2 separate regions of the Homo sapiens genome follow, and region 2 is linked to region 1. Evidence: fine-mapped expression QTL. Tissue or cell type: neural progenitor cells. Region 1 holds a variant in brackets; the other region holds the start of a gene. All regions are shown on one strand. Distances are between the middles of the regions.

What was found. PIP is the estimated chance that this variant, and not a neighbour inherited with it, causes the effect.
Region 2: it holds the start of SPATA20, and the variant in region 1 is fine-mapped to the expression of SPATA20 in neural progenitor cells (Aygun 2021, PIP 0.95).

The regions. Positions count from the first base shown.
Region 1 is chr17:50,513,186-50,515,939 of GRCh38, reverse strand. All of the region lies in intron 1 of MYCBPAP (MYCBP associated protein), which reads right to left. Among named protein-coding and RNA genes, the nearest start is that of MYCBPAP, 6.1 kb to the right of the region's middle. The variant G/A (reference allele first, on the strand shown) is at 1,203.
Region 2 is chr17:50,545,803-50,548,302 of GRCh38, reverse strand. SPATA20 (spermatogenesis associated 20) reads right to left here and starts at 1,129. Exons shown (of 17, transcript NM_022827.4): 1 at 1,018-1,129; 2 at 536-583; 3 at 1-20. The coding sequence starts at 1,094. RefSeq lists a silencer at 850-1,119.

The sequences.
Region 1 (2,754 bases):
ACACTTTGAGAAGCCAAGGCAGGAGGATTGCTTGGGCCCAGGAGTTCAAGACTAGCCTGGGCAACATAGTTGAGACTCCATCTGTACAAAAAAGATTATTTTTAATATACAAAAAAGATGTTCCATTTCAGGCTATGCTATTTATAAGCTGGACAGTCTTGGGTACGCATCACTTAACCTCTCTAGGCCTCAGGCTTTCCATGTGTAGAAAGAGTCAGTTGGACTAAATCAGTGGTTCCCAAGTTATTAGTCCAATGTCTGCCTCAGAATCTTTGGGGGAGTTTTATGAATACAGCTTCCTGACTACTGCATGGAGCCAGGGCCTAGGGAGCTGTACTTTTTTCAACTCCCTAGGTGATTCTGATGCACAGTGGTTTGGGACAACTGAACTAGATGTTTTGCCAGCCTCCTCCAGTGCTGGCACTGATCCATGCTTCTGGGTGAAGGCACAGGGTTTCACAAGACACTGGTTAAAGTGCAGAATCTCTGTGGGGGAAGCAGAGCATTCACCACTGGCCATTTATTGCATATTCATTTAATAAAGATTGTTTAAGCAGCTTCTACATGCCAGGCACTGTGCTAGGTTCTAGGGATACATGCCAGAGCTTGTCTTTAAAGAGCACATGCCCAATGGGAAACAAGACCGTGAAACAGACTGAGCCAGAGTAACTACAGGAACATGGTGGGGGGGAACAACCAGCCCTGAGTCGGCGGGCGTGGGAGGTGGGGGAGTCAGGGAGGGCTTCCTAAGGAAGGGATGTTTAAATAGAGCTGAAGAAGCTGGAGAAAGGAAAGGGCCCTGGGGAACAGGCATTCCAAAGAAAATAACATAAAGAGGCATAGTGGCAAAGAATGGAGCACATCCCTGGAACTCAAAGCATGTGTTTTTGAATAGCTGGAGTGTGGTGAGGTGGGAGGGAAGAGGCAGAGCCCAGAGACAGCAGCAGCCGCCATATCGTGAAGAGCTCAGTGAGCCATGTGAAGGCTTACCCCATGGGCAATGGCATGCCAAGGAATGGATTAAGAGTTGCAAGATCTTGGGAGGCCAAGGCAGGCAGATCGCTTGAGCCCAGGAGTTCAAGACCAGTCTGGGCTCTATAAAAAAAATCAAAAAATTAACCAGGCATGGTAGTACATGCCTGTAGTCCCAACCACTTGGGAGGCTGAGGGGAAGGATAACCTGAGCCCAGGAAGTGAAGGCT[G/A]CAGTGAGCCAAGATTGTGCCACTGCACTCCAGCCTGGGTGACAGAACAAGACCCTGTCTCTAAGAAAAAAAAAAACCTGCATGACTGAGGATGAGTGTATGAATGTATTTAAGAGTCCGTTGTGGCAGCCACAGCATGACATTGACAACACCCGGGGCAGAAGGGGGTCACAGGTCACTCTCCAACGAGGACACACTCCCTGCCTTCCTTTCACAGAGGTGGCTTAACAGGATCAAACACATCTCATTTCTCTGGCTGGTCAACCCTGTCATTTTCCCTCTGGTTCAGAATGGTTTGATATAAGGCCCTACATAAAACAATCAAAAGAAAACCTAAGTCCTGAGGCCTTTAGGGAGTTTAAAACAAAATTTGGTTTTATCCACTGCTTCTTACAGCACCGTAATCTTTAAGAGGCAATATCACGAAAACATAAAGGCAGGTGTTTTGGTTAACAAAATCCAACTTTTTTTAGGAAATTTCCATAGAGTTGGTGGCCAAAAAAACTCACACCAAAATCATTCCAAACATAGTTCTAAATTCAGCCTGTTGGCCAGGTGCAGTGGCTTACGCTTGTAATCCCAACACTTTGAGAGGCCGAGATGGGAGGATTGCTTGAGGCCAGGAGTTCAAAACCAGCCTGGGCAACACAGGAGAACCTATCCTTAAAAATAATTTTTGTTTTTCTATTAGAAAAAATAATAAATTCAGCCTATCATCCACAGTCTGTTTCTGTAATGGGGTCAGCAGAGGTTTGGAAGTATCTGTCTGTTAAATGCATGGCTCTGTGCACACAAACACACATGCAGGGCTGCCGGCTGAACCCCGAGTTCCAGTCTCATCTGCCGCCATGTGTGGGGATGCAGCCTTGGGCTTTGATTTCTACCTCCCTTCTCCCTTCTACACAAACTCACCAAAGTGGGTGGCAGCCTATGAGAACTGAGATCAGCTGAAGGTCTGTTTTTGTAAATATTTTGGTATTATCTGTACTTTCTAGGACATTTGCTTCCTTTATCCATAACCTTGGCTGGGTTGACATCTTTCCAAGTGATTAAACGTCTCCAGATGTGTGCTTTTTACTGGTGGGTGCACAATTACCACGTGTCAATAGAAACTTTCAACACTGCCGAAGATTTTTGGGGGCCAAAGCTCCCATCCCTTCAGTGATAGAGAAGCTAATCTTTCATGTTTGCTTTAGATTGAAATAGTAAAACTCTGGTCTAAGGTTATTCTGAGAAAGTTATCTTTAATGTAGTCCAATAAATGCTCTGTTACTGCATACAGTCAGGGAGTGGTATGTTCTAGTTATTAAAATATTCATTAAAATGATATATACATCTTTTTTTTTTTCTTGAGATGGAGTCTCACTCTGTCCCCCAGGCTGGAGTGCAGTGGTGTGATCTCAGCTCACTGCAACCTCCGCCTCCCGGGCTCAAGTGATTCTCCTGCCTCGGCCTCCCGAGTAGCTGGGAATACAGGCATGCGCCACCATGCCCAGCTTTTTTTTTTTTTTTTTTTTTTGAGATGGAGTTTCACTCTTGTTGCCCAGGCTAG
Region 2 (2,500 bases), 32 kb before region 1:
TGTCCCGGGAGGAGCTACCCCTGGCGAGGACTGGTGCATCAGGCAAGCCAGGGGCCTCCACCCACCTTCTCCCAGGCCCCCCAGCACCTGCTCCATTTCACTCAGCACCCCAGTAGGACCCCTGCTCCCAGCCCAACCCACCTTTCTGAACCATGGGGGAGACTGTGGCCTTTGTGCTCCCCCTTATGTTTTTTGGGGGGTGAGGAGAGGTGGCTCATTGGGGGCTCCTTGCCAGGTTAGTCTCCCCCAACCTCCTGGGCCTGGCGGTGGGAAGGATGGCTGTGAGGTCAGGGCGGGTCACAATGGGCAGAATGGTTCTTGGGGCTCCATTCTTACCCCTCCCCAGGCCCCTCCCCCGGCCCTTCCTGGAGCAGCTGCTTGGAGGCATCTCTCTGGCAGGCCTGGGTGTGGCCCCACTGGAAGGCAGCCTACTGTTGGTGGCTGGACAGGCCAAGATCAGTAGGGTCTGGGACTCGACCAGGTGAGGGACAAACAGAGGAAACCAGACATGGGGACTCCCTCACTCAGCGCCCACCTGCTGGGACTCCTGTGGGGCCAGGTCCTGGGCCAGACTCCAGGACACCTAGGGAATCAGAGACCTCAGGGAGTTCAGCCTGGAAGTGGGACTGCAGGCAGACCTAAATAACGAAAGGTCCATGCAGCAATAAAGGACTGTGACAGGGCACAGGGTACTATTGGAGAAAGGCCCTTGACCCAGCATCCAGCACTGGGGTGCAAGGAAGGCTTCCTGGAAGCAGTGTCAGAACAGTCCCTGAGGAGCTGGCACTGCACTGGAAGGAAGGGGAGAGGAGGGAAGGGATGAGGACGGGAGAGGAGGGGAGGAGGGCCTTACAGCCAGAGCCAGGTCTCAGGAGCAGACCGGAGGTGGGGTGGGGGAAGGGCCAGGCATGCAGGGGTGGTCCAGACTGGCACTGGGGACCGGTGTCCGGAAGACCCTCCACTGGGCCCGCAGGCAGGCGCAGGGAGTGCCCTAGGGGCCCGCTCGCCCGCCCGTACCTGCGGCTCGCGGCGAGGCCTGCACCGGCGCGGGGCAGCAGAAGGACGCGGCCCAACCAGGCCCGCGCGCCCAGCATGGCTGCTCGGGGCCGTGGGCCCGGCCGCTGAGGACAGGAAGGGAAGTCAGGAGGCTGCGAGGGGCGGGCCGGGCACCTACGGAGCCGCGGGCGGGTCTTCGCCGGGACTTGGGACAGTGTGGCTGGTCTCCGAGCGTCGCCCTGCGGCGGAGCGCAGAATTGCAGATCAGGCACCCGAGCCTTGGGAGGACCCATTCTGTGCATAAAACTGGGCTCTGCCCCTGCCTGGGGAGGACAGCCCTTCTCAAGGGAATAGGGAGAGTTGTGGGATCTAGGGCTGGGAGATGCTAGGGACATGGGATGCCAGAGCTTCAGCTCATTTTGTCCAACCCCTGCCCATTTTACAAATGAGAAATGAGATCCAAGGCGAAGGCGTACCTTGGCCAGGTCCACCAGCTAACAAGGTTTGCTTTTTGCAGCCTCCTCGTCTCTAGGTCCTACTCAAATCCTACCCACTCCAGGAAGTCTTCCTTAAATAATACTGATGAGCCCATTTTATGTCTCATAGGTTACACATGGCCTCATTGGCTACATTCAGCCAATATTTATTAAGTGCCTGCCGCCTGCCACTCTGCAAGGCACTGAGTATACAATGGTGGGCAGAGAGAAACAAGGCTCCTGCCCTCACATGGCTCACAGTCTGTTGAGAGCGGCAGATGCTAATTCGACAGCCATACCGATAAACACCCACGTGACAAGTCCGTGAGGGTATAACGTAACAAGTGACCTGATCTGGTGGAAGGGGCAAAGGATGAAGGCTTCCCTGAGGAAATCACATTTGTGAAGCCATGGAGAACGAGAGAAAGGAACTTGGAGGGTGCTCAGGGGGAGTGCTGGGGAAGGAGGCAGAGGTACAGTTTGTGCAAAGGTCCCGTGGCTTGTCAGTGAGTCCGGGCTGAGCAACTGCAGAAAGAGGGAAGACAGGCAGTAGATGAGGGCAGAGGCAAGATCTTGGAGACACTCGTGAACTGTAAGAAGGGGATTTTTATTTTTTGAGACAGAGTCTCGCTCTGTCACCCAGGCTGGAGTGCAGTGGTGTGATCTCGGCTCACTGCAACCTCCGCATCCTGGGTTCAAGGCTGGTCTCGAACTCCTGACCTCAGGTGATCCATCTGCCTTGGCCTCCCAAAGTGCTGGGATTACAGGCATGAGCCACCATACCCGACCCCATTTTTTTTTAGCCAGAGTCTCACTCTGTTGCCCAGGCTGGAGTGCAGTGGATCTTGGCTCTCTGCAACCTCCACCTCCTAGGTTTAAGCGATTCTTGTGCCTCAGCCTTCCAAGTAGCTGGGACTACAGGAGCGCGCCACCATGCCCAGCTAATTTTTGTATTTTTAGTAGAGACGGGGTTTCGCCATGTTGCCTAGGCTGGTCTCAAACTCCTGACCTCAAGCGATCCATCTGCC